Regions from separate parts of the Homo sapiens genome. Here all the other regions are linked to region 2. The links come from fine-mapping of genetic effects on gene expression. A gene starts in region 2. Each other region holds a variant in brackets. All regions are shown on one strand. Distances are between the middles of the regions.

What was found. PIP is the estimated chance that this variant, and not a neighbour inherited with it, causes the effect.
Region 1: its variant is fine-mapped to the expression of NLRP3 in whole blood (TOPMed, PIP 0.93).
Region 3: its variant is fine-mapped to the expression of NLRP3 in whole blood (TOPMed, PIP above 0.99).

What each region holds. Positions count from the first base shown.
Region 1 is chr1:247,385,748-247,395,834 of GRCh38, reverse strand. It overlaps LOC107985375 (a long non-coding RNA gene), which reads right to left and starts at 6,059. Exons shown (of 2, transcript XR_001738574.1): 1 at 5,487-6,059; 2 at 1,973-2,493. RefSeq lists a silencer at 2,712-2,994. The variant T/C (reference allele first, on the strand shown) is at 5,158.
Region 2 is chr1:247,411,331-247,421,417 of GRCh38, reverse strand. NLRP3 (NLR family pyrin domain containing 3) reads right to left here and starts at 5,245. Exons shown (of 10, transcript NM_001243133.2): 1 at 5,225-5,245; 2 at 2,341-3,365. The coding sequence starts at 2,617.
Region 3 is chr1:247,442,344-247,452,003 of GRCh38, reverse strand. It overlaps NLRP3 (NLR family pyrin domain containing 3), which reads right to left. Exons shown (of 10, transcript NM_001243133.2): 8 at 7,862-8,032; 9 at 7,183-7,353; 10 at 3,187-3,599. The coding sequence ends at 3,500. It overlaps OR2B11 (olfactory receptor family 2 subfamily B member 11), which reads left to right. Exons shown (of 2, transcript NM_001004492.2): 2 at 1-2,822. The coding sequence starts at 22. The coding sequence ends at 975. LOC124904575 (a long non-coding RNA gene) reads left to right here and starts at 3,777. Exons shown (of 2, transcript XR_007067005.1): 1 at 3,777-3,920. The variant T/A (reference allele first, on the strand shown) is at 2,871.

The DNA of each region.
Region 1 (10,087 bases), 26 kb after region 2:
TAGCCATCTTTCTGGAAGGATTTATAAGAATTTGGGTAACAGTGTTTGCCTCTGGAGAGAGGAACTGAGAAATTGGGAAACTAGAGATCTGAATTTTTTTAAAAAAATTGTTTTTCATTGTGTTCCATTTATAGCATTTTAATTTTTAGGCCCTGTGCATGTACAAATAAAAATAAGATTTTGAATAATTAAAAACAATAAATAGTAGGAACACTTAAAAGAAAGAATTATTGGCTGGGCGTGGTGGCTCACGCCTGTGATCCCAGCACTGTAGGAAGCCGAGGCGGGTGGATCACAAGTCAGGAGTTTGAGACCAGCCTGGCCAACATGGTGAAACCCCGCCTCTACTGAAAAATACAAAAATTAGCTGGGCGTGGTAGCACACGCCCGTAGTCCCAGCTACTCAGGAGGCCGAGGCAGGAGAATGGCTTGAACCCAGGAGGCAGAGGTTGCAGTGAGCTGAGATCACGCCACTGCACTCCAGCCTGGCGACAGAGCAAGTTTCCATCTCAAAAAAATAAATAAATAAATAAAATGAAATAAAATGAAATAAAATAAAATAAAATAAAATAAAATAAAATAAAATAAAATAAAATAAAATAAAATGGAGATGAGGTCTCCACACGTTGCCCAGGCTGGTCTTGAACTCCTGGGCTCAACAACCTTCAGGCCTCGGCCTGCCAAAGTGCTGGAATTACAGGCATGAGCCACAGCACCTGGCTGACATATAAGCTTTTGAAAAGCTAGAAGCAAATTCCCCGAAGTGGGGACAATTCTAGTTGTGTAGTAAAACAATAGATTAGACTTTTCTTTTTTCTAAATTTCTGTATTTTCGCATTTAAGTTATTGTGTCTTCTTTTTGCTTCATTATTTCAAATAACACATCATACAATATTACATATGATAGTGATTTAAGATTAGGGAATTTATTTATGTGGTGATACATATTTTATGACCCCATAATATGTGTGAATTGAAAGCCAGAACCATGACTATTGTGAAGCTAACAGACCTGCTGTGGTCTAAATATTTGTGTCCCCTCTAAATTCATGTTAAAATCTAGTCACCAAGGTGATGATATTTGGAGGTGGGAACTTTGGAAGGTGATTGGGTCATAAGTGTGCAGCCTTCATAAATGGCGTTAGTGCCTATAAAAGAGACCTCCAAGAGCTGCCTTGCCCCTTCCATTAGGGTATAGAAACACAGCAAGAAAACACCATCTGTGAATTAAGAAATGGGTTCCCACCAGGCACTGAGTCTATTTGTGCCTTGATCTTGAACTTCCAGCCTCCACAACTGTGGGAAATCCATTTCTATTGTTTATCAGCACCCCCAGTTCATGGTATTTTATTAGAGTAGCCTGAATGGACGAGATGGCCTTCATCGGGTCTTTTCACCATTATGGGCCCAACCGCAGCTCAATATCATTAGAGGAGAAAAAACACTGACCTCCTGCAGGCCATGCAAGAAGGCAAATGGAAATATTGGTAATATTCATTTATAGTGGACTGACTGTGCCCCACTAAAATTCATGTGTTGAAATCCCCAGTGTGATGGTATTAGGAGGTGAGAACTTTGGGAAGTAATTAGCTCACAAGAATGGAGCCCTCTTGAATGGTATTAGTGTCCTTATAGGAAGAGGCCAGAGAGCTCTCTTGCCTCTTTCTGCCATGTGAGGATACAACAAAAAGTTGGCAGTCTGCAACTTGGAAGACAGCCCTCACCAGAGCCTGACCATGCTGGAGCTCTGATCTTGGTTTTCCAGCCTCCAGAACTGTGACAAATAAATTTCTGTTGTTGATAAGCTACCCAGTCTGTGGACCTTGTTATAGCAGCCCAAATGGACTGAGACACCATTTAAAGAACAAAAGAGCAAAACTCCCAAATGGAAAGCTTAATATGTGATTAAGCATTAAAAAATGCAATTCTTATTAGTAACCTGAGAGGAAAGCAAGCTAGATATTCAATATGCTTTAAGTTAGATATTCAATATGCTTTAATTTTTTTGAAATGGTAAATGACAAACAAAAAGTATCATCTACATATTGCAAAAGGGGCTGACACTATCTTAAAATATGTGAAAGTTAAGCTTGAGTTGTACAATTTGGGGGCAAATGTGACTGGGCACTGGGTGTTAGGTGAAGTGATCTATGGCCAACCAGCTGGCTTCTGACAGCAGGGGTGTTAGGGAGGAACCCCTGCCTTAGATTGCCCCAGGTTCTCAGCTCTTGTTCAGCATTTTCTTTCCAGAAAATAGGTCCTTTTATTCCATGTAAAAATTGCAAAGGTTTAAATTCACATAAATTATAAATGGATCCATCAGCACCATCTCTGAGGACAGATGTAGTCAAAAAGAAAGACGGTGTTTTCTGTTTGGAAGAAGAATCACGGCAGATGCAGAGCAGAGCTTAGACAGTGGAGCATGCAGAGGAGCTCTCTTGGCTTCCATCATCTTGCTTCTGGTCAGCCTTGATGAGAGGTAGAGTCCTGGAGCTGGAGGTGGATGTACAGGGAACAATCATAAAAGAGGAGGGAAGGGAGGATGCTTGCCTATTCCCAGGATCAAAAGTAGACATGTAGGCCAGGCATGGTGGCTCATACCTGTAATCCCAACACCCCGAGAGGCTGAGGCAGGAAGATCACTTGAGGCCAGGAGTTTGAGACCAGTCTGGGCAACATAACAACAGTCTGTCTCTACAAAAAATATATATATATTTAAAAAACAAATTAGCTGGGCATGGTGGCATGGACTTGTAGTCCCAAGCTACACAGGAGGCTGAGGCAGAAGGATCTCTTGAGCCCAGGAGTTCAAGGTTACAGTGAGCCATGATTGTGCCACTGCACTCCAGCCTGGGTAACAGTGTGAGACCCTGTCTCAAAAAAAAAAAGCAAGCATCTGCTCCTTTAAGATGCAGTAGACAGACCAGGCCGTGGTGACTCATGACTGTAATCCCAGCACTTTGAGAGGCTGAGGCAGGAGGATAACTTGAAGCCAAGAGTTCAAGACCAGCCTGGGCAATATAGTGGGACCTCTGTTTCTCCAAAAAAAAAAAAAAAATGCAGTAGATAAGAAGTCTCAGACTAGATGAATGCTCACTCAGTCTAAAGGCATTCACCAAGACACCATTGTGGGTGAGGCACAGAGAAGCTTTGTGTCCTCAGAAGGCCTCTCACACTCCGATACTTAAACTCACCTTCACACAGGTTCTTTCTACCATACAGCTGTAAGCACAGGTCCATGTCCAGGCCATGCTGCCTACAGTGTAGCATGTCTAAGATTCTTTTTCATAGTCCTGTAACTATTTTGTTCAAAGTACAATATTGTTGCAAGACATTTCCAAGTGTGATAGAATGTTAAAAAGGAAAAAAAAGTCCAGACTTTAATGTTACAGTGAACTGTGACAAAGATTCCCTCCTCTACCAAACTTCAGTCAGACTCCTCGGAATCTTCTCCTCAACCAGGCCTTGTCCTTGGCCCCCATCCTCTCATCAACCTGCCTAGCCCAGTTTTAGCAAGAATCCTGCTAAGTCATTCCCCACATTGATATCTGACTATTCTCATATCTGATTGGGTTGCTCATCCCTCACAATCCCCCAGGTGATATCTGATCACCCTGGCCTGTCTTCAGCAAGAATCCTGTTAGATCACTTTAGCAAGAATATCCCTACCCTTGTTAAGGAAAAATTATTCAATGGTACTTATTAAAGGATGGGAGGGCTGACTTTGTTCTGGACCCTTGTGATAAGTGTAGGTAACATGGCAGTGGGATCTAGCGGTGGGAGAGAGGTTGGGTCGGACTCCAAATACAACAAGGAAGAGGGGGTATTTATAACCAAAGAGAAGGGTGGGGGTCAGTAGATAAAAAATTACGAAGAGGAAATATCAGGGGTAAGGGGGTTCTGGTTGAACTGGCCTAACATACTCTTGCTGAAGGCAGGCCGGGGTAATTGAACATTGCCTGGGGGATAATGAAAAATAAGGAACCCAATCTGCCATTGAGGAGTCAGATACCAAGGATGAGGATATTCTTGTTAAACTGACTTAGCAGGATTCTTGTTAAAGCTGGATTTTATAAGGAAATGCACAGATGGGTCTAGGAGAAGGTTCAGGAGCCTGACTAAAGTTCTGTTAGGCCAGGTTCAGGAGTCTGATTAAAGTCTAACAGAATCTTTTTCACCTTTACTATATCCTCTTAGTAATCTCTGTCCACTGACTCCCAACCTGTTCCCTAGCCATAAATCCCAACGTTCCCTTGTTGCATTCAGGGTTGAGTCCATTCTCTCTGCTCTATTACAATACCCCTGCTGGAATCGTGCTAAATAAAGTCTCTGTTACCATTTCAAAAAGCATCGGAATATTTTTTTGAGAAGGGTCTCACTCTGCCACCCAGGCTGGAATGCAGTCGTGATTGATTATGGTTCACAGCCTCGACCTCCCCAGGTTCAAGCGATCTTCCAACCTCAACCTCCCAGGCTGCTGGGACTACAAGTGCACATCACAACCCACCTGGCTAATATTTGTACTTTTTGTAGAGACAGGGTTTTGCCATATTGCCCCAGGCTGGTCTTGAACTCCTTGGCTCAAGTGACATACCCGCCTTGGCCTCCCAAAGTGCTAGGATTACAGGTGTGAACCACTGCACCTGGACAGAGTATTTTTTCCTTTAATGATGACTGTGGCTGGGTGTGGTGGCTAATGCTTGTAATTCTAGTGCTTGTGGGAGGCTGAGAAGGGAGGATTGTTTGAGGCCAGGAGTTTGCGATTAGGCTGGCCACACCACACATAGCAAGACCGTATCTCTACAAAAACATGTTTAAAAAATTAGCCAAGCATGGTAGTGTGCACCTGTAGTCCCAGCTACTCAGGAGGCTGAGACAGAAGGATCTCTTGAGCCCAGGAGTTCGAGGCTGCAGTAAGCTATAATTGTGCCACTGCCCTCCAGGCTGGGTAACAGAACGAGACCCCCAATTCAAATAATAATAATAAAACAATGGCTGTCACTCAAGCTCCTGATGGTATAACATCAAAAGTCCCAGAGTGAAATCATTTTGCAAAAAAAAAAAAAACCCCAAACTTCCAAATTTTTCATTAGTCAAGTATTTTCATCACTGTCTTTTTTGTGCTCACAGAAATAAGCATATCATTGCTCAGTGTAC[T/C]GGAATCTTGAGTTTTCTGTAAAAGGAAGTGTATTCGATGTAAACATTTAAAACACACCAGAGTTTCGTAACTCTGCTTTGTCATTTCTTTTTTTTTTTTTTTAATATACTGAGCTTCTAAAGATAAAAATAAGAAAGAAAACGGAAGTAGCCTGAAACTGCTGTTGCAATGTTTTTCCTAACCACACTGAGCTCGACTCTTTTCAGGAGCCCGACTCCAGCTGCTGCTGCAGCACATCTTGAGCTGGGGCATCCCCGCGTCTTAGACCTGACCTCGCTCTCTCCCCCTGGGACTGTATATGTAGCCCAGAGGCCTGGCCTTGGCTCACCTGCTTAACTGAGAGGAGAGTCCCTCATTTTGCTCCACTGGAGGTTCCTGCTACTCTCTTCTGCCCTCTGCTGGTCCTGGGTGTTAGTGACAATCATCCCTCTGCCCTCCCCAGGTTAAGAAGAGGAAGGAGGGAGAGCGGAGGACTGCGGAGCAGCACCAGCGGATGGAGAAAGCTAATTGCTGTAAAAAAGAGTACATGATTGGCGTCCCCGAAGTTTCCAGGACAGAAGTGAAGGGTGGGATATTGGGGAAAGACGGGGCTTGCTTGCATGAAACCTAATATAAAGAGGTGCTGGTATAAATGGAATGTCCGTGTCTCTGCCAAATTCATATGTTGAAATCTTAACCCCCCAGATGAGGGTATTAAGAGATGAGGCTTTGGAGAGGTGATTAGGTCATGTGAGTGGAGCCCCCTGAAGGGAGAATTAGTGCCCTTATAAAAGGGGCCACAGAGCAATCCCTTGTCCATTCCACCATGTGAGATTATAGCTAAGGAACATATATGGCCATCAGTAGCACAGAAAACGGGTCCTCACCAGACACCAGACCAGCCCAGACACCAGACCTGCTGGTGTCTTGATCTTGGAGTTCCCAGCCTTTAGAGCTGTGAGAAATAGATTTCTGTTGGGCCAGGTGTAGTACCTCACTCCTGTAATCCCAAATCTTTGGGAGGGCAAGGCAGGAGAATCACTTGAGGCCAGAAGTTTGAGACCAGTCTGGCAAAATAGAGAGACCTCATCTCTACAAAAAATTAAAAGTTAGCTGGGTATGGTGGCTTGTGCTTGGAGTCCCAGCTCCTTGGGAGGCTGAGGCAGGAGGACTACTTCAGCCCAGGAGTTTGAGGTTGTGGTGAGCTATGATCAATCATATTACAGTCCAACCTGGGTGTCAGAATGAGACCCTGTCTCAAAAAACAAACAAAAAAAAATCCTGTTGTTTATAAGCCACCCAGTCCATGGCAGTTTGTTACGCACTGAAACACAGGAGGTGGGGAAGAATGAGTCGAGGAGGACACAGGTGGGAGTGAGTCTTGCATACAGTTGTTACTCTGAACTTACGTAAGAATTCTCGTTTTCTCGTTTGGTTGTAGAATCAGTCAGTCTTGAAATCGAGATTCTATAGGTCAGCAGGAGCAACTCCCTTTCCTGATTGTGACCAGGAAGGGAAGAAGGGAAGGCTTCGCTCCCACACTCCTGCTCATCAGCTTCCCTGGACATTAAGGCCCAGCAATCCTGCCTGGGAGGCTGCGAGAACGAGACTGTTTTGTTGGGAAGTTGGACCAAAGACTCCTCATGGGCCCATCCAGCTCTGAACATCTAGAAATCCAGGGACATGGACAGAGAGTTCTTCCCCACCCTTTCACAGGGTTGTGACATGGCCTCCCAGTGTGCTCTCAGGTTCTTCTGTCTCTTGAGGTCAAGGGCCCTGGCAAAACCCTTTACTTGGACAGAGCAACTGTGGAAGTTAATCTTATGTGTCAACTTGACTGGGAAGAGATGTCAAGAGAAGTGGTAAAACATTATTATTAGGTGTGTCTGTAAGGGTGAGTCTGGAAGAGGTTAGCGTTTCTATCAGACTAGGTAAGGAAGATCCGCCCTCACCCACGCGGGCAGGCATCGTTCCATCCGTTGAGGAGCCGAACAGAAGAGTGGAGGAAAGGCACATTCTCTCGGAGCTGGGACATTCACCTTCTCCTGTCCTCGGACATCAGTGCTCCTGCTTCTGAAACCACCTTTGCAAAATTAATGACTGAAACAGCAAAAGAGATCTAACTTCACTGACTCCTTCTTGCTTCTAACCTCCAAGCTGCCCTTGTTCATTCCTGGGCATAAGCTGAACTAACTTTGGGAGAAACTTAGTTTATAGTTTACCTTTTTTTTTTTTTTTTTTGAGGCAGAGTCTCACTCTGTCGCCCAGGCTGGAGTGCAGTGGCGTGATCTCGGCTCACTGCAACCTCCACCTCCTGGGTTCCCACCATTCTCCTGCCTCAGCCTCCCGAGTAGCTGGGACTACAGGTGCCCAACAGCACACCCAGCTAATTTTTTGTATTTTTAGTAGAGACAGGGTTTCACCGTGTTAGCCAGGATGTTCTCGATCTCCTGACGTCGTGATCCACCCACCTCGGCCTCCCAAAGTGCTGGGATTACAGGCGTGAGCCACTGTGCCCGGCCTATAGTTTAAAACAAAGACCATAGTTTAAAACAAAGCCCTTTCCCAAAGCAGACCTCCTTCTTGCCTGGGGACTAGGTTGTCTTTGTAGGATTAACATTAGCCACAAGATTAGAAATCATAGTTTAAGAGACATGCAGCTGGAGGCTACAAGATTCTGACCCTCCCTAAACTGCTCCTAAGATCAGTGGCTTGAGATGTTTTGCAGACCTTGCACTTAATGGATCAGCTGGCATCATGCAGATTAATTAAGTGGCTCACCTGATCTTGTGGCCCCCACCCAGGAACTGACTCAGTGCAAGAGGACAGCTTCAATTCCCTATGATTTAATCTCTGACCAATCAGCACTCCTGGCTCACTGGCTTCCTCACACCCACCAAGCTGTCCTTAAAAACTCTGCTGCCCAAATGTTTGGGGAGACTGATTTGAGTAACAACGAAACTCCGTTCCCCTGCACAGCTGGCTCTGCGTGAATTACACTTTCTCCACTGCAATTCCTCTATCTTGCTAAATCGGCTCTATCCAGGCACTGGGCAAGGTGAGCCCATTGGGCAGTTACACTTCTCCAGCCTTCAAGCTCAGACTCAATTCCCCGACTGGCTTTCCTGGCTCTCTAGCCTGCGGAGAGCAGGTGGTGGAGTTTCTCAGTTTCCAGAATCGTGTGAGCTGATTCCCATAATCAATCTCATATACTATGTGTATCCTATGGATTCTGTTTCTCTGAAGAACCCCCCAAAATATAGCACACAATCCTAATTTTTCCTACCACTCACTCCCCAGCAACATTTTAATTTGGCCAAGTTCTCTGTTGCTTATAGCAGAACACAAAAGCACCAAACAGCAAAACAGGGAAGCAGGAATCTCTCTCCTTTGAGACCCAGAGCGCCACGCTGTGGAACAATTAGCTGTGTGGGGGCCCTCCCCTCCCTTCACCCTCACAAGTCAGACTCGCTTATAAACCCACCAGCCAAGTTAGGCCATCTTCACCTGTCCAGATCTGGAGATACTAGAAATCATCTTATCTCATATCCTTCCTTTAGGTAAAGGATACACTGAGACCCAGAGAGGCCGGCTTGCTGTGGGTTTAAAACACTCTTACTTCTAGGGCAGGGGTTCTCAAATGATTTGGTTCAAGGCCCCATTACACTCTTGAAAATGAGGACTCCAGGGGGCTTTCATGTGGGGATTATATCTGTTGATATTTACTGTATCAGAAGCCAAAACAGAAAAATTGTTAAAAAGTCTGAGAAGAGTAGCACTGACTTACAGTTTGCACATCTTACTCATGTCTGACTCAGCAGAAAGCAGCTGGAGTCTCTAATACTTCTGCATCTTTAGTCTACTGCAATATCACAGAGCATTAGCCTGTTGAAAATTCCAGTCTAAGCCGGGCACAGTGGCTCATGCCTGTAGTCCCAGCACTTTGGAGGGCTGCGGTGGGAAGATCGCTTGAGCTCAGGAGTTTGAACCAGCCTCAGCAACATAAAGAGACCCTGTTTCTACAAAAACTTAAAAATTAGTTGGGCGTGGTGATGCACACCTGTGGTTCCAGCAACTCAGGAGGCTGAGATGGGAGGGTTGCTTGAGGCTGGGAAGTTGAGGCTGCAGAGAGCCATGATCATGCCATGGAACTTCAGTCTGGGGAGTGAAGTGAGACCCTGTCAAAAAAAAGAAAGAGAAGAAGGGAAGAAGGGGAAAAGTAAATTCTAGTCTACACTTGTGAGAGTGAAAACAGTGTCATAGTATGATTATGAAAATAGTTTTGACCTTGCAGATCCCCTGAAAGATCTCAGGAGTTCCATGGGGATCCCCCGACCACACAGTGAGAACTATAGGTATAGAATAAGCAAGAGCATGTCTGGAGTCCTTGTCTCCTAAATCTCCATCTGCTACCTTTATTTCTTATTTTATTTCTTGCTTATTTTTATTTACTTGTTTATTTGTCTTGAGATGGAGTCTTGCTCTGTCACCAGGCTGGAGTGCAGTGGTGCCATCTCGGCTCACTGCAACCTCCACCTCCCGGGTTCAAGCAATTCTTGTGCCTCAGCCTCCAGAGTAGCTGGGATTACAGGTGTGCGCCACCACACCTGGCTAATTTTTGTATTTTTAGTAGAGACAGGGTTTCACCATGTTAGCTAGGCTGGTCTTAAACTCCTGACCTCAAATGATCCACCCACGTCAGCCTCCCAAAGTGCTGGGATTACAGGTGTGGGCCATCACGCCTGGCCTATTTTTTATTTTTATATACTAATTGTGGAGAATCCCTGGGTTTGTTTTTTTCCATCTTTCTTTTTTAATTTTTTTTGAGATGGGTCTTGCTACATTGCCCAGGCTAGACTCAAATGCCTGGGCTCAAGCAATCCTGCTGCCTCAGCCTCCTGAGTAGCTTCAATTACAGGTACATGCCAACACACTTGGCTCCATCTGCTG
Region 2 (10,087 bases):
AGCTCCTGGGCTCAAGCGATCCTCCTGCCTTAGCCTCCTGAGTAGCTGGGACTACAGGTGAGAGCCATTGCAGCAACTGGTTTCTGACCTCCCCCGGCTGCACACTGCTGTCTGTTTCCCCAGTGTCATTACACCCACACTGCTGCCCTGCCTTAACATGTGTCTCCCTATCCACTGACTCATTTGTACTCCTCCTTCCCATCACCACCAGCTCTACATCATCATCCTGCAATACCCTGCCCTTCTCTGAGCCCTACCTTTGCCTAGAACACAAGACAAAAGAAAGAACCTTATCCCCAATGTGTACATGGGGATTAAGAGAATTTCTTTTACATTCCAATTCCCAAAGTGGTGGTGAAAGGAAAGGCTTCTGCCCCAAACTCCACGGTTCTTCAAGGAGAGAGGCTGCCCTCTGGGCCATAGGAAGCAGAGGCCCAAGCCTGCTGACCACACAGCAGATACTGGACAAAACATGTGGTCTGAGAAGCTGGATGGAGAATTGGAGGCAGGTCTAGGCACTGCTGAGATTCAGATAAAGAGGGACTAATCATGGCAGGTGCCCAGGGGGTAGGTACAGTCTGCATCAGCTTTTTAAAGGAGTTAGAGAAAGCAAACAGTTTGCCTCCACCTTCTCATAGCACTACCGTGAGAGGGGAAAAGAGAAAAAACCAAGACAATACAAGAAAAAAAAATTTTTTTTTGAAACAGGGTCTTGCTCTTTAGCCCAGGCTGGAGTGCCGTGGTGCAATCTCAGCTCACTGCAACCTCCACTCCCCATGTTCAAGCAATTCTCCTACCTCAGCCTCCTGAGTAGCTGGGATTACAGGTGCCCACCACCACACCCGGCTAATTTTTTTTGTATTTTTAGTAGAGATGGGGTTTTGCCATGTTGGCCAGGCTGGTGTTGAACTCCTGACCTCAGGTGATCCACCCACCTCAGCCTCACAAAGTGCTGGAATTACAGGCATGAGCCACCATGCCCGGCCATGATTTAAAAAAAAAAAAATCATACTAACTTCTGTGCATCAAAGGACACAGTTAACCAAATGAAAAGACAACCCACAGAATAGGAGAAAATATTTGTAAATCATATATCTGATATGGGGTTAATATCTAGAATACATAAAGAACTCCTACAAGGCAACAACAAAAGCCAAACCTGGTCTGAAAATGAGAAAAGAACTTGAACAGAACTTTCTCTGAAGAAGCTCTATAAATGGCCAACAAGCAGTGAAAATGTGCTCAGCATCACTTATCATTAGGGAAACGGAAATCAAAACTACAGTGAGATACCACCTCACACTCATTAGAATGGCTACTATAAAAAAGAAAAAATAAATAAAAATAACGTGTTCTTAGGATATGGAGAAATTGGAACCCTTGTGTGCTGTTGGTGGGAAATGGTGCAGATGGTATCTAAAACAGTAGAGCAGTTCTTCAAAATATTTAACAGAATTACCGTATGATTCAGAAATTTCACTTCTGAGTATATACCCCAGAGAATTCAAAGCAGGGTCTTGAAGAGATATTTGTGCACCAACACTCATAACAGCATTAACAATAACAAAAAGGTAGAAGTAATCCAGGTGTTCATCAACAGATAACTAAACAAAATTTGGTATATGGTACCATGGAGTATTTATACAGTCTTTTTTAAAGGAAGGGAATTCCGACACATGCTACAACATAGTTGAACCCGGAGGACATTATGCTGAGTGAAATAAACTACTCATAAAGGAAAAAATGCTGTATGTTTCCACTTATATGAGGTACCCAGAGTAGTAAGATTCACAGAGATGGCAAATAGAATGGTGGTTACCAGGGCTGGGAGAATGAGGCAATGAGGAGTTATCATTCAATGGGTGAGGAGTTTCAGTTTTGCAAGATGAAAACAGTTCTGGAGACTGGTTGCACAATGTGAGTGTACCTAACACTACTGAACTGTACATTTAAAAATTATTACGGCCGGGCGCGGTGGCTCACACCTGTAATTCCAGCACTTTGCGAGGCCGAGGCGGGTGGATCACCTGAGGTCGGGAGTTTGAGACCAACCTGACCAACATGGAGAAACCCCATCTCTACTAAAAATACAAAATTAGCCGGGCGTGGAGGTGCAATGCCTGTAATCCCAGCTACTTGGGAGGCTGAGGCAGGAAAATCGCTTGAACCCGGGAGGTGGAGGTTGCAGTGAGCCAAGATCTCACCATTGCACTCCAGCCTGGGCAACAAGAGCAACTCCGTCTCAAAAAAAAATATATATATATATATATATAAAGATGGAAAATTGTACACTATGTGCACTTGGCCACAATTTTTTTTAAAAGTCTTCCTTCCACTCACCCCACTTCGGCTCATCTCTTTTTGCTTTCTCATAAAGGTCTCTCCTGTTGATCGCAGCGAAGATCCACACGGCCATGGCCCACGCCTTCTCCTCCCCATTGAAGTCGATCATTAGCGTGGCTAGATCCACATGGTCTGCCTTCTCTGTCTGACCCCTCGGGAGGGGGATGCAGCCCTTCTGGGGAGGATAGTCCTCTAAGTGCATCTTAAATTTCTTCAAGTCCACATCCTCCAGGTCCTCCAGGTACCTGGCCAGCTTGCAGCGGGTGCTTGCCATCTTCATCTGCAGCTGTTTTCAGGGTCCTTAGGCTTCGGTCCACACTAAGATACCAGGCAGTGAACACGGCACACGGATGAGTCTTTTTTAAAGTCTCCACTTTGAGAGATATAAATTATCAAAAACTCAGCAAACAGAAAGAAAAAAATGTCACATGACTGTAACAAGTCAAAATCTTTAATTTTGAAAAGTTAGCCAAGGCCGGGCACAGTGGCTCACGCCTGTAATCCCAGCACTTTGAGAGGCCAAGGCAGGCAGATCACCTGAGCTGAGGAATTCAAGACCAGCCTGGCCAACATGGCAAAACTGTGTCTCTACTAAAAGTACAAAAATGAGCCGGGTGTGGTGGCGGGCGCCTGTAATCCCAGCTACTCAGGAAGTTGAGGTAGGAGAATTGATTGAACCCGGGAAGTGGAGGCTGCAGTGAGCCAAGATCACGCCACTGCACTCCAGCCTAGGCGACACAGCAAGACTCCATCTCAAAAAAAAAAAAGTTAGCCAAATGCTTACCAGAAAGTTCTCCTGTTGGCTCGATCCAGGAGTGTGTCCTGAGCCATGGAAGAAAGGTTTCCCTATGGAGGGAAAAATATGCAAACAAATCCATAAACAGGATTGTATTACAGTTTACGGTGAACAACCACTTCACGATGCCATCTTGACCCATCAGCAAGAAAATTTTTGTCCCGTTGATTACGGGGCTATGACATTGGACAAACTCTTCACTATTCCTCAACTTCAGTTTCCTCATCTACAAAATGAGAAAGCAGAAGAGAATGTTTTCAGTTCCTCCAAACTGAAGGCTCTGGCTCTTTGCTTCTGTTTTTGTGAGGGAAGAGGGATGAGAGACAATAGAAGGAGAAGGCCAGGAGGTGAGTAAGTGTGTTGATAACAGAACAGGACGTGGCTAGGGAGAGAGGAGAGAGAACATAAAAGCTTGCAGAGGAGGGGACAGTCTTTGACTGCACTTCTATCAACCAGTGGATTGAAGTGAGATGAAGCTGGGAGTGCATAATGGAGAATAATAAAAACATACATCCCTGTAATCCCAGCACTTTGGGAGGCCGAGGTGGGCGGATCACCTGAGGTCAGGAGTTGGAGACCAGGCTCACCAAACAACAGGGAGAAATCCCGTCTCTACTAAAAATACAAAAATTAACCGGGCATGGTACCAGGCACCTGTAATCCCAGCTACTCGGGAGGCTGAGGCAGGAGAATCGCTTGAACCCAGGAGGCGGAGGTTGCGATGAGCCAAGATCACACCACTGCACTCCAGCCTGGGCAATAAGAGCAAAACTCCATCTCAAAAAATAAAATAGAATAAAATAAAATAAATAAAAACATACATCCTTTAATGTCTCCTTGCAAAATTCGCAATTGTTATCATTATAATTCACATTAATTTAGAGCTTTCCACAGGCTAGGCACTCACTGATGTTTTTCCCCATCTAACCTGCACAGAGCTCTATGAGGTGCACCTATTCCTAGCCCCATTTTATAGATGCATAAACTGAGTCTTAGGGGGACTAGGAAGCCTGCCGAGGGGTTTAGAACCAGGAAGGAACAGAGCCAGGATTTTGACCAGAGATATGAGACCATGTCTTCCATCACTTGTTTCAGTCAGACAAAGACAAAGACAACAAAATAGATGACTAAAAGACACACTTCCCCAGCATTTATCACAGGTGTATCACTGCAGCATTCACCAACATAGTCTTCCCAACTAGACTGTGAGTTCCACAAAAACTAGCAATCACCTGCTGTATCTTTAGATCTTCCATATCTCCTAGAGTCCGGATGGATGAACAAGTTGGCTTTGTTTGGAATTGTTCCCTCCTTGATCCCTTGATTATACTCTATTTGGCAAAGCACCTCAACCTAAAGCCATAAATAACACTCAAGGGAGGCAGAGAGCCTGGAAAACGGTGGAGCTCTCCAAATTGGAATTTCTGTGACTGCAGTTCAATGTCAAGATGCCTCAGACTCACTCATCTCTCCCGTCCCATCTCCATTCCTGCCTATCTACTCCTCGCCTCCTGAGCCCTGCAAACCCAGCCCTGTGCATCCTGAGGTGACTGCTCTCCAGACAGCCCTATTAGCTCCGCATACCCTCCCAGCTCCTGCCCATCCTGAGGTGACTGCTCTCCAGACAGCCCTATTAGCTCCGCATACCCTCCCAGCTCCTGCCCCATCAGTCCTTCCATCTGCATCAGGATTCTGCCTTTCTTCTGTGCTCCTTCCACCCTAACACCAGCACAAAAATCTGCTGCCCTTTGGTCTTTAAGGAGGTTTGTTTCCTTCTGTATATCCCATCCATCTTCTCCCCTGGGAGGGATACTGGGCAAATCTGCTGAAGTCGTGGGTGTAAACTATGGTTGCTGCCGCTGTCCTCCCCGCTTCCCCCCGCCACATACACACACACGAACTTGCACACGTAGAGCCCAAATAATGATAAAAGAACATTCCAGAAATGTTGTTGAAGCACAACCTTGGAGACGCCAGAAGAAATTCCTAGTGCATTAACCAGGACAAGTTCTGCCCTCTGAACACAATCTCCCCCACTGCTCTCCCGGTCCTGTCGCCCACACTGCCCCGCGGAGCTGGACTTACCCAGATGCCAGCCTCAGGAACAGCTAGAGAGGAAATGCAATGAATTTATAGCAGTCGCAGCCCCAGAAGGGGCAGGAAGGATGTGGTCTCCACTTACATCAGAGCAGAGGCAGAGAGACTAATGGTTAATCACATAGCTGGATTTTCCAAATGGGATCAACAGTGTTGTCAAAACCGTGTCTCGGTTCCATACTGGGGTTCACCTTGCTCTCCTCTGAGGCACCCCACAGAAGCAGGGTGGGAGGCCAGTATGAGATGGGGCTGGGGGTCAAATCGGCAGTGCTAAATGGATGTTGCCTCTGACACTGCCCGCTGCAACGGCTCCACTGAGAGTGAGGGAAGTGAAACTAAGGACATGCCATGCGAGTGAGTAAAGAATCCAGAGCATGACCTGACCCAGCCTTCAAACTCCAGAGTCCATGCCCTGTCCTCTCACAGCAAGATGGCTGGAAGGCAGTACAGGTTCTCTCCGACATGTTCTACTTTTAAAGCACAAATTTTACTCCCTGACTCATTGACTCACCTGTTCCACTAACACTCACGGAATGGCTGGTATGTGGCAGGCATGCACACAAAGCCTCAGCTTGAGTAGCTTGAGGAGAGACACACACAGACCTACTCTGCAGCTCATGAGACGGCCGCAGGACCACAGACCGGCAAAGGCACAAGTTCAACAGAGCTTGGTGGGTGAGAGGCACTCGCTCAGCCTCTGGGTGAGTGAAAAGGACGAGCACCCAGTTCAGTGGAGGGATGTCAGCAAATGACTGGGTCTGTCTGTGCCTCATACCTGTAAAAGGGTGACAATAATTGCCTGCTACTTCTTTAGATCTTCCAAATCTCCTAGACTCAGGATGGATGAACAAGTGGTTTTGCTTGGAATTGCCCCCTCCTTGATCCCTTCATTATACTGCATTTGACCAAGCACTACATCAACCCAAATAACGGTACCTATCCTAGAAGGCTGTCAGAAAACACTGAGTGAATGGCTAAACGTGAGGCCTTTAAAACAGAGCCTGGCACAGAGAAGCTAGAATAAGCAGTTGGTTCCGATGACTACCACCTTTCTACAGAACTGCAGAGAGAATGCTCTACAACATGAGAGAGGCATCTAGTCCTGCTTAGGGGCATGACAGCAGACCTGAGTCTCCATGAACCAGGTGAAAGGTGTCATTCGGGGCTGGAGCTGAGGCAGGAGCAGCAAAAACTTCAGGTGCTGAAGCTAGAGAGAAAGCAGACCAAATATGCTCCAAAAGAAAGGAGCTCAGCCTGGGTGCAGTGGCTCATGCCTGTAATCCCAGCACTTTGAGAGGCCAAGGCAGGCAGATCACAAGGTCAGGAGTTTGAGACCAGCCTGGCCAACATGACGAAACCCCATCTCTACTAAAAATATAAAAAAAAATAGCTGGGTGTGGTGGCGGGCACCTGTAATCCCAGCTACTCAGGAAGCTGAGGCAAGAGAATCACTTGAACCTGGGAGGTGGAGGCTGCAGTGAGCTGAGATTGTGCCACTGCACTCCAGCCTGGGTGACAAGAGCAAGACTCCATTTCAAAAAAAAAAAAAGGAGCTCATTGGCTGAACCTGGGATCTTTTTGTTTTTGTTTGTTTAGTCAAGTTAATTTAGGTATAATTCAGCCGGGCGCAGTGGCTCACGCCTGTAATCCCAGCTCTCAGGGAGGCAAGAGGCGGGAGGATAGCTTGAGCCCAGGAGTTCGAGACCTGCCTGGGCAATATAGTGAGACCCCATTCTCCAGAAAAAGGAAAAAAAAAAGACAAATTTAGGTATAATTCATATGCAGTAAAAATCCATGCCTTTATAAAAACAGACCCATAGACCAGTGGAACAGAAATAAACTCAAGTATATGCAGTCAACTAATTCTTTGACAAGGTCACCAAGAAGACACAATGGAGAAAGGACAATCTCTTCAATAAAGATGTTGGCTATAGAAGTGTGAAAAAAAAATCAAGAAAAATATAAGATTTTGAAAAATTAAGCTTTTGGTGAAACTGGATTTCCACACGCAAAAGAATAAAACTTGGCACACACAAAAACCAACTCAAAATGGATTAAAGATCTAAACATAAGATCTAAAACTGTAAAACTCCTAGAAGAAAATAGAGAAGAAGCCAGGCATGGTGGCTCATGCCTGTAATCCCAGCACTCTGGGAGGCTGAGGCAGGAGGATCACCTGAGGCCAGAAGTTCACAGTCAGCCTGGGCAACATAGTGAGACTTTGTGTCTACAAAATTAAAAAAAAAAAAATTAGCCAGGCATGGTGCTGTGCACCTGTAGCCCAGCTACTCAGGAGGCCGAGGCAAGAAGATCACTTGAGCCCAGGAATTTGAGGTTACAGTGAGCTATAATGACACTACTGCATTCCAGCCTGGGTAACAGAATGAGACCCAATCTCTAAACAGATAAAAAACTAAATATAAAAAATAGAAAACAGAGGAGAAAACTTCTTGATATTAGCCTTGGCATGGATATTTTTAATGTCTCAACAAAAGCAAAGGAACAAAAGTAAAGATAAATAAGTGGGAATACATCAAAGTAAAAAGCTCCTGTATAGCAAAAGAAACAATCAACAGAGTGAAAAGGTAGCCAACAAATTGGAAGAAAATAGTTTTAAGCCATATATCAGATAAGTAGTTAATATGCAAAATATGTAAGGAATTCACACAACTCAAAGCATAAAACAAATAATCTGATTTTTAAAATGAAGAAAGGAACTGAATAGACATTTCTCTAAAAAAGAAACAAAAATGGTCAACATGTATACAAAAAAGTGCTCAACATCACTAATCATCAGGGAAATGCAAACCAAACCCACAATGAGGTACCACCTCAAACCTGTTAGGATGGCTATTAGCAAAATGACAAGAGACAAACATTGGCTAGGGCGTGAAGAACAGGGAACCCTTGCACATTGCTGCTGGGAATGCAGATTGGTGCAGCCATTGCAGAAAACAATATGGAGGTTCCTAAAGAAATTAAAAATAGAACTACCGTATGACCCAGCAATCCTTCTTCTGAGTGTGTATCCAAAGGAAATAAAATCACCACCTCACAAAGACATCTGTGCACTCATGTTCATAGCAGCATTATTCACCATGGTCCAGATAGGCAAACAACCCAAGTGTCTATTGACAGATGAATAAATAAAGAGTTTGGGGCATATATACACAATACAATCTTAGTTAGTATTAAAAATTGAGACTCTGCTATTTGCCACAACATAGATGAACCCGGTGGACTTTACACAAAGCATAATAAGCCAGGCACAGAAAGACAAACACTACATGATCTCACTCATATGTGGAACCTTAAAAAAAAAAAAAAAAAAAGTTAGGCCAGGAGTGGTGCCTCACACCTGTAATCCCAGCACTTTGGGAGGCTGAGGTGAGTGGATCACTTGAGCCCAAGAGCTTGAGACCAGCCTGGGCAAGATAGTGAGGCTTCACCTCTACCAAAAAAATGAAAAAAAGAAAAGAAAGGAGGGAGGGAGGGAAGGAAGCCAGGTGCAGTGGTGTGCACATGTCACCCCAGCTACTTGAGAGGCTGGGAGGCTGAGGTGGGAGGATTGCTTGAGTCTGGGAGGTCGAGGCTGCAGTGAGCCGAGATCACACCACTGCACTCCAGCCTGAGTGACAGACCGAGATCCTGTCTCAAAAAAAAATAGTTGAATATATAGAAACAGAGAGTTACCGGGGTAGAGGAAATAAAATGACGGTCAAAGGGTACGAAATTTCGGTTATGTAGGATAAATAAGCCGAGAGATCTAACAAACAGTGTGGGAACGATAGTTAAAAATATTATAAACCTGAAATTTGCTAAGAGAGATTTTAGATGTTTTTACCACCCACAAGAAAGATTATTATGTGAGATGGTGGCTATGTTAACTCATGTTAATTTGCTTGACTGCAGCAATCATTTCACTATGTATATCAAACTGCCATGTTATACACCTGAAATATGTACAATAAAATAAATATTCGCACCTTTTTCATGCACAGGCCTGTGAGTGCTCACAAGCATATAGCTACCCACCACCACAGCCCACACAGAGCACCTGCATCAGCTGCACATGCTCCCTGTGCAGCCTCTGTCCCCACCCACTGTGCTGCCACATAGTCAGCCTCTGTCCCCACCCGCAGCCCCACTTCTTCCACCTGCTAAAGCATTACCTTTTCCAGAGCATCACATAAACAGTGTGCAGCCTTTGGTGAGCGAGTCCGCTCACTTCATATGATGCCTGTGAGATTCAGATCAGTAGCTTATTCCTTTTTACTGCAGTTAAGTATTTCATGGGTTGGATAGGCCACAATTTGGTTTTCTATTCCCTAGGCAAAGGACAGTTGGGCTGTTTCCGTTTTTGGCAATCGTCAATTATGCCACTGTCACTCATGCAGCTGGCGAACTGGCTGCAATTGTGTAAGGACATCAGTCACTTGGGGCAGTGGGAAGTTCACGAGAAGCAGATGAGGTTTCCAGCCTTCGCTGCTTCACTCTCCGCTGAATGCTGCGACCACTCCTGTGGTCCGACTCCTTGCCTGCGACCCTCACCTCAGCTTTCCTGTGAGGCTCAAATAAAACAAGACCTGATCTATAATACATTATTGTAGAGAGGAAAAAATAAATAAAATAATACCTGACAGCAAAATGTAAACTGTACAGTAGTATTCAAATTGTAGGTCAGGCCAGTTTCAGTGGCTCACACCTGTAATCCCAACGCTTTGGGAGGTTTGAGGCAGGAGGATCACTTGAAGCCAGGAGGCCAAGAGCAGCCTGGGCAACATAGTGAGACCCCATCTCCACAAAAAATTAAAAAATAGACGGATGTGGTGGTGCATGCCTGTAGTACCA
Region 3 (9,660 bases), 31 kb before region 2:
AGTGCCAGAAAATGCCGCAACATGAAAAGTGACAACCATAGCTTCTTAGGGGACTCCCCTAAAGCCTTCATCCTTCTGGGTGTGTCTGACAGGCCGTGGCTGGAACTCCCTCTCTTTGTGGTCCTCCTGCTGTCCTATGTGCTGGCCATGTTGGGGAACGTCGCCATCATCCTGGCATCCCGGGTGGATCCTCAACTCCACAGCCCCATGTACATCTTCCTCAGTCACCTGTCCTTCCTGGACCTCTGCTACACCACCACGACAGTCCCTCAGATGCTGGTCAACATGGGCAGTTCCCAGAAGACCATCAGCTATGGAGGCTGCACTGTGCAATATGCAGTCTTCCACTGGCTGGGATGCACGGAGTGCATCGTCCTGGCCGCCATGGCCCTGGACCGCTACGTGGCCATCTGCAAGCCCCTGCACTATGCCGTTCTCATGCACCGTGCTCTCTGTCAGCAGCTCGTGGCTCTGGCCTGGCTCAGTGGCTTCGGCAACTCCTTCGTGCAGGTGGTCCTGACGGTGCAATTGCCATTCTGCGGGCGGCAGGTGCTGAACAACTTTTTCTGTGAGGTGCCGGCCGTGATCAAGCTGTCGTGTGCTGACACCGCTGTGAATGACACCATACTGGCTGTGCTGGTGGCCTTCTTCGTGTTGGTGCCCCTGGCTCTCATCCTTCTCTCCTATGGCTTTATTGCCCGGGCAGTGCTCAGGATCCAGTCCTCCAAGGGACGACACAAGGCCTTTGGGACGTGTTCCTCCCACCTGATGATCGTCTCCCTCTTCTACCTACCTGCGATTTACATGTATCTGCAGCCCCCTTCCAGCTACTCCCAAGAGCAGGGCAAATTTATTTCTCTCTTCTATTCCATAATCACCCCCACTCTCAATCCCTTCACCTACACCCTGAGAAATAAAGATATGAAGGGGGCTCTGAGGAGACTTCTGGCCAGGATCTGGAGGCTCTGTGGATGATGAGGACATGAGATGTAGCATCTCCATCAATTAAAGAACACAGCACAAGTCTATTGTGCACTCAGAGCATCTTTCACTTAAGGAGTTAATACCCAGAGAGCTCAAAAACCCTGTCTTCAAACATCTCACTTCCTGTTATAATGCCCCAAATCCCATAGCGACAAAGTTCATTTTAAACGTATAATTCTAAGAGGCCATATATTTTTAAGCATTGTTTAAATAGACTTCAATAAGTATGTGTGGAATTATTTCACTTCCAATTTCCTGATTCTTTTCTCTTTTCCTCTTCCTATATTTCTTTTATTCTCTCCCCATTTGTCTCTTTTCTATTACTCCTAAGTATACACAAGATGAAGCTGAAATACAATCTTATTTTACTTACAATGAATAAGTGTTTTTCTCCATATACTTAAATCTCCACAAATTTTACACGACTTTTTCAGACAATTCCAGGAATGAAGTAGATTGCTATCTTCTTCCTGTGATTTTGATTTTTTTTTCTCTGTAGTTCACATTTTCTTCTATAGAAAGTTTTTCCATGAAATGTAAACTAGTACAAACACTAGTACAACCACGATGGAAAACATTGTGGATCCTTAAAGAACAAAAAGTAGATCTACCATTTGATCCAGCAATCCCACTACGGGGCATCTACCCAGAGGAAAATAAGTCATTATACGAAAAAGATACTTGCTCATGCGTGTTTATAGCAGCACAATTTGCAATTGGAAAAATATGGAACCATCTGGGCGCAGTGGCTCATGCCTGTAATCCCAGCACTTTGGGAGGCCGAGGCGGGTGAATCACAAGGTCAGGAGTTCAAGACCAGCCTGGCCAAGATGGTGAAACCCCATCTCTACTAAAAATACAAAAATTAGCTGGGCATGGTGGCACACGCCTGTAATCCCAGCTACTCAGGAGGCTGAGGCAGAGAATTGCTTGAACCCGGGAGGCGGAGGTTGCAGTGAGCCGAGATCGCGCCTCTGCACTCCAGACTGGGCGACAGAGCAAGACTCCATCTCAAAAAAAAAAGAAAAAGAAAATGTGAGATATATACCATGGAAAAATACTATTCAGCCATAAAAAGGAATGAAATAATGGCATTCTCAGCAACCTGGCCAGTTTTAATGTCCTAATGCCCAAAGGTTCTCTTTCTCTCTTTCAAGCTCAGCTATGTGTTTCTGATTACATTATTTATATAGGTTATCAAAGTGTTTGTAGCAGGAAGGCAGTCGGTAATAGTTCACCAAGATGCAGAAACCCAGTCTCCAGTTGGTGCTGCTCAGAAGTGCTAACAAGACAGAGTTTGCAACAGAATGTAAATCTCATACTGTTTCCCTTATAAAAATAGTCTTCAGGGTTTTTTTTAAATGTCAGCTCATCTAAAAGGTATGTTTAATAATGTGATTGTTTTACATTCTTATACAAGCTCCTTATATCGACAGTTCATAGACTACACTTTGAGTAGCAAAGTGTGGCTACTTTGATGGCTAATTGTACAGAGGAAATAGTATTTCCATCCTGAGCAATTCCATGCGGTTTAAGAGTTGTCCATGTGTAGAGAAGCAATTAGTAAATATTTCCTTATAACTTAATGCTCTGTGAAGTATAATAGATGAACTGTTCCTCGGATGGGATAAATCCAAAATAAGCTGTTATCAACTGAAAGCAAGATGCATCTTCTACATAATACTTCTAGTTAGGAGCGCAGGCTCTGATACTCTCAAACCTTTCCCTCCACGATTTTCAATCTCCTATCCTATCAAAGATGAAATTCCACTCATTACAGTTAGAGTGAGGTAACGTTTTAAAAATTATCTACAATGGAATCATTTGCCAAAGTGACTTTTAAAATGCACCAAACAATTTAATTTATCTTTAGTGGTTTAGAGAAA[T/A]AATTTGAAAAATTTCTAGGTACTCTTTTTTAAAATTAAGAAAAGGAATCAATTTAATTAAATACCAAAAAGTTTTACATATTCCTGAATTTTCAACCAGCTACAAAAAGCATGGATTTTTCTTATTAGAAAACAAAACTGTTACAAAAAATTTAAATAAATAAATAGCTGCCATAAAATTTCAACATAATATATAGTCAACTAGTTCTGTGTTATGGTCAGTTAATAGAAAGATAGCGGGAATGATGATATGAGCAAAAGTAAACAGAACAAAGAAGAAAAAAGATAGGAAAAAGAAAGTTAGACAGAGAAGAGAAAAATAAAGAAAGTGCTTTATTGAATGAGCTAATTACATGAGGTCACCAAGAGGAACATCCTCTAACTGAGGCGCTGTGATGACAACAACACCCGATGCTGTCATTGTCCTGGTGTCTTCCTCACCCTGGCGTAAAGGAGATGCCCAAGCTCTGCACAGGAAGGCATCGTCGGCAAGCTCTCTTCTCCGACACTCCACCGGAAGGATCACAGAGCTGTGGTCTTGGCCTGGATGGATCGCAGCTCTCTCCACCTGAGGGCCCCCAGCTGGAGGGACCGGAGAACACTGGCGTCTGGCAGCCCCGTTTCCACTCCTACCAAGAAGGCTCAAAGACGACGGTCAGCTCAGGCTTTTCTTCTTGAAGTGTTTCTAACGCACTTTTTGTCTCATAATTGAAATACATTTCAGACAACCTGTAAAAGCAAATAGAAAGCCTGGGTTGCACTCTTCAGATAACTCTGTCAGAGTCGTTAACCTTAAAAGTCTCATCTCTTCATTTCCCTAAACTCCACACACTTCTAAAATGTAAAAAAAAAAAAAAAAAAAAAAGAGGGACCACAACTCCCAGAGTGCTCCGCGTCCTCGCCGCCGTCGCCGCCGCCGAGACCAAGATGGCCGCGAGACTCCGCACCTTCTTCAAGAATGCCTGGGCCAAGGAGCCGGTGCTCGTCGTGTCCTTCGTCACTGGGAGCCTCAGACCCCCAGGACCCCAGCCTGGAGTGGCTGAAGAAACTGTGAGCACCTCCAATGACAGAGGAGGCCCCTCCCACGGCTCCCAATAAAAATGTGGGGAAAAAAAAAAAAAAGCTCTAAGTGCCCAATGTGGTTCCTGTTATATTTTTAACTATCTAGTTGGGAAAATGTTAAGCATACATAAAAGTATAGAAAATAGTATAATGAACCCCCTGTGTCCATTACCCAAGTTCGACAATTAAACAGGTCATGTCAACTTGTTTCTTCTATTGCCCACCCACTCCTCCCACCCATGGATTATTTTAAATACTGCATTTAATGCATCTATCAATAATTCACTTTGTGACACTAAAATATAATTACAATGTCACTATCACACCAAAATCGTTTAACAATAATTTCTTAGTATCACTGTATGTCCAGTCAGCATTTACGCTTCCTCAACTGTCTTGTAAATTTTTTTACCTTATGTTCATTTAGTCACTAACCTGATCAATTCTACACATTGCATTTGCCCAGGATGCCTCTCACATCTTCGATGTAAGTTCTTCCTCCTCTTTAATAAAGTTTCCCTTGCAACTTAACTAATAAATCCACCCATTTGTCCTGCACCATTTATAACCATCTCAATTTGGTGGTGTTATATACTGAATGTTTGTCTTCCTTAACAATTCCCATGATGAAGCCCGAACCCCTAATGTACGGTACTTAAAGGTGAGGCCCTTGGGAAGTAGTTAGAGTTAGATGAAGTTGTGAGGGTGGGGCCCTCAGTATGGGGTGAGTGCCCTTACAGGAGAGATATCAGAGAGTTTGTTCTTTCTCCCCTGTCTTCTCTCCCTTGCCTCCCCTCCCTCCATGCAATCACATAACAAGAAGGTAGCCATCTGCAAATCAGGAAGAGGACTCTCGCCAGCAACCAAATTCATCAGAGACTTGATTTTGGACTTTCTAGCCTCCAGTATTGTGAGATAATAAATCTGTGTTTGAGTCACACAGTCTAAAGCAGCTTGTTATCGCAGCCTGAGAAAACGGGTTGATTGCATTCATGGATTCTTCAATCTATTTTGAGCCTGTCCCTCAGCCTGGGTCCAGAATGTCCCTCAGGGCTAGGTCAGTGATGCTACATGTAGCAGTGTCCCCAGCTTTGACCTGACCAATCCTTTGTTTGTTCCCCCATCTCTCTTAGCTCTGGGAATATTGGCTTGTCCTGCAGCAAATGTGCTCCATTATGTTGGCACAAGGATGCAAGGCTGATTCAAACTTGTATTTATTCAAACCTGCATTCCAACAAGTTCTCAGCCTTGAGATCATTAATATGGACAGAAGTCCCTGGACTAATGGAATTTATATTTTGGGAGCAGAGATAGATAATAAATAAACAAGAAAATGACATAGCACATAAGATGTGCTACACTGCAGAGGAGAATGAGAAGAGAAGAAAAAGTGCTTCTATTTTCAGTAGAATAGTCAAAGACAGCCTCGCAGAGAAGACCTTTAAGCAGAGAATTTAGGAAGGTACAGGGAATAATGCAGGTGGATACTGAAGGGGAGAGAGTTCTAGGCCAGAAGAAAAGCAAGTGCAAAAATCCAGAGATGACAGTGTTCTTGCAAAACAGCAAGGAGATCACTGTACTGGGGCAGAATAAGCAAGGGTTGGGAGAAGCGGAATCTTCGGAAGCAGGAGAGGCTGGATTATGTGGGGCATGGAAGCCACCATGAGTTTGTTGCTCTGATTATGAAAGTGATAAGAAGACGATGTTGACAAGAGTGATATGATGCGAGTTACGTTTTAGCTGAATCCCTTGTCTGCTAAAATCAGAATAACAGATGCAGGGTGACCTGTCAGAATGCCACCATGACAATCCAGACACCAGGTGATGGTGGCTTGAGCCAAGGAAGAAGCCGTGAAGCTGGCCTGAAGTGGTCAGGGAGTGGCCAAGCTGGGAAGGCAGAGCTCACAGGATGTGCTGACACATTGGACATGATTATAAGGAAAAAGAGACAGTGACGACAGAACCAGAAATGTTTTGGCCCGAGCAACTTGGAGGAAGTGACCATCGACTGAAATGGGGAAGAATCAGGTTTCGGGTAGAAGAGAGTAGCAAGGGTGTGGATCTAGATGTGACGTTTGAGAGGTTTATTAAACCTTCAAGAAGAAAGATCAGCCAAGCACGGAGACACAGAATTTATGGACATATAATCTGGAGGCCACAGCACACATATCATGAAGCCAGAAGACCAGATAATTTAAATGAGGGAGAAAGTGTAGGGAAGAAAAATTAGCCCAGCGACTAAGCTCTGAGGATTCAACACATAAGGGTCAGGATGATGAAGAAGAGGCCAGAAAGGAGACTGAGTAGAAGGATCTGATGAAATAGGAGAAAACCCAGGAGAGCATGTTGGCCTTAAAGCCAAGCAGTGAAAACGTCTTCAGGGAAAAGTGCAATCATCACGGCTGACAGAACCGTGGGACTCGCCAGGAAGCTCTTGCTAGAGAGGAGACGACTACCTCAGTAGTATCACAGAGGTGGGCTGGCAATATCCTGACACACTGTCGAATTTCGTGTAATTTCCCATCTTGCTATTCCTGGAGCACTCTTTTCCCATTTAGAAATCCTCAGAAACCGCCAGGCACGGAGGCTCACACCTGTAATCCCAGCACTTGGGGAGGCCGAGGCAGGCAGATCACGAGGTCAGGAGATGGAGACCATCCTGGCTAACACAGTGAAACCCCAACTCTACTAAAAATACAAAAAATTAGCCGGGTGTGGTGGCAGGCGCCTGTGGTCCCAGCTACTTGGGAGGCCGAGGCAGGAGAATGGCGTGAACCCGGGAGGCGGAGCTTGCAGTGAGCCGAGATCATGCCACTGCACTCCAGCCTGGGCGACAGAGCAAGACTCTGTCTCAAGGAAAAAAAAAATAAATCCTCAGAAACAAAACAACAAGATCCCCACTATGTAAAGACCCTTCCAATTTGGATGACCCATAGACGAGTTCTACGAAGTTCGGTTCCTTGTGTAGAACAGAATCCTCCTTGGCCATGATCGCATGAGGGCTTGTGTTTCTTTGGGGAATGTGGGTGAAATCCAGCTTAGCCTTGGTGATTCTAACCATCTCAGTGAAGTGGAATGTGTAGTTTAACCCCATATTCTCTATTTTAAAATATCCACCACAACTGACCCAGGCCCAACCTAATCTTGAGTGGCTGCAAATGAAGCGAGAGCCATCCTGGATTTTGATAACAGTCAACGTTTCCTGAGAACTCAGAGTCCCACCACGGGCATCTCTGCAGAGCACACTCACCCCAGGTTCTGCAGGAGGCAGCTCTGCTGTTTCAGCACTTCACAGAACATCATGACCCCCAGGTCGCCCAGGTCATTGTTGCCCAGGCTCAGCTTTCGCAGGCTCTGGCTGGAGGTCAGAAGTGTGGAAAGATCCCAGCAGCAGTGTGACGTGAGGTTGCAGTTGTCTAATCTGCAAAAAGGGGGTGATTTAAAGAAAATGTCCCCTTAACCATCCCCCTAGCTCCCCAAGATTTTAGCATCTTAGCCTGTCTTGTTTCAGGTGGAAAAAAAAAAAGCACAGGAGCACAGGACTAACTAGCTTCAAGCAGCCTTGTATGCTGGTAATTATTCTTCTCTCTCTTTTTCAAATCCACTGCATTGCACAGATCAAATTAGTAACAGTGGTTTGTTCATTGATTTACCAAATTCTGTGCCTTTCCCTACATTTCCATAAAATGTAAGTGTCATACTGCCCTCCTTGTTTTGTGGTACAGAAAACTGTGATGGTAAGGACTCAAGTTCCTACATCTATATCATCTGGAAGGACTCCTCCCAGTCCCATGATCCTGTAACAAGGCAAACACTAAGAAGACACCTCACTTCTAAGATACAGATTATCTTGTGGCCACTCTGCCTAAACGTCCCTCCACCCTTGGCCACCATGTGTTCTCATTGCTGTAATAAACCAAAGGACTTACTCCAACACCTGAAGCTTGCAGTCGGGGTGCAAGAGTCCCTCACAGAGTAGTTTGATCCCCTTGTCTCCGAGAGTGTTGCCTCGCAGGTAAAGGTGCGTGAGATTCTGATTAGTGCTGAGTACCGAGGACAAAGCTGAACAACAGACTGACGTAAGGCCAGAATTCACCAACCTGTAGAAGGACAGGGAGAAGAGTCCTCAGTACCCAGCTGTTCCCCAACATTGTGCAGCTGCTTTGACTCAGTGCCTCGTCCTCTCTCAGCAGCTGCAGCCTTCAGCTCAGAGAGCAGGAGCCAGCATCTCAGATATGATCTGGGGAGAGCAAGACCTGCTGTCTCTGGCTGTCACAGGAGACACAAATGATGTCTCAGCAGATGCTTTGCTGTATGAGTCCGACAGAAAGAGCCAAGGCAAACTGAGCCAGTTACCCCATACTCCTCCTCCTCCTCACACAGCTTTCCTCCGGCCAGGAGTGCTCCTCAGCACCACTTCTTCCAGAAACACATCCCAGTGGTTATCCTCAACTAATAATCCCCGTAACACTGCAGACACCCACACTGCAGGGGCCTTTTTTTTTTTTTTTAAGAGAGACAGGAAAAAAAAATCCTCCTCATGGGAAGTCGGTGCTGATTTAAACATCAAAGACAACAGGTGAACGTCCATTGTGACCTTCTAAGCTGTAGCTAGGGCTGTGACAGGAACACGGCGGGGCCCTTAGCAATTGCCACCTCCCGCCTTCCTGCGCCCCCAAATGCCCCTTTCACATCTTTCTCGCTGCAGCCCTCAACCACGTTGGAGAGGTGGGAGGATCGCTTGAGTCCAGGAAGTCGAGGCTGCAGTGAGCCATGATTGCGCTGCCACACTCTAGCCTGGGTGACAGAGTGAGACCCTGCCTAAATAAATAAATAAATAAGGCCAGGTGCAGTGGCTTATGCCTGTAATCCCAGCACTTTGGGAGGTCCAGCACTTTGGGAGGGTGGATCACGAGGTCAGGAGTTCAAAACCAGCCTGGCCAACATGGTGAAAGCCCATCTCTACTAAAAATATAAAAATTAGTTAGGGTGGTGGTGGGCACCTGTAATCCCAGCTACTTGGGAGGCTGAGGCAGGAGAATTGCTTGAACCTGGGAGGCAGAGGTTGCAGTGAGCCGAGATTGCCACTGCACTTCAACCTGGGCAACAAAGTGAGACTCTGTCTCAAAAATAAATAAATAAATAGAAAAAGCCAGGCTCTTGCTCAGTCACCCAGGCCAAGTGCACAGCTCACTGCAGTCTTAAACTCCTGGGCTCAGACAATCCACCCACCTTGGCCTCCCAAAGTGCTGGGATTACAGGCATGAGCCACTGTGCCTGACCCAGAGACCAGTCTTATTTGATTATTATATCAACCTGGCAAGGAAGGAGTGCAGCTAAAACTATTACATACATTTTACATATTAGAAATCTAAGGCTTATAAAAATTACATGTTTCTCTCAAGGCCACAGAGCAGGTGTGTGGTGGGGAGGGATCCAGACCTGGACTTTCCACCTTTTAGTCTCATCTTCTCCCCACTGCCCTTTCTGTCCACCTCTCTCTTCCTTCTGCACAGCAAAAGGCCTTTTAGAGCATAAAACCCCAAAAATGCATCAATCTCGATGGAATTAAGAGTTTTGATGTACTATTCTTGAGTCAAATTAAGCCCATTCTATCACCCAGGAAGAGCATAAGAGCTCTAAAATCACTGGTGGCGTAATTCCTAGGAGCACAGATGCTTCTATTCCATGAAGCCAGGAATAGCGCAGGTGATTGCCTCCTTCCTGC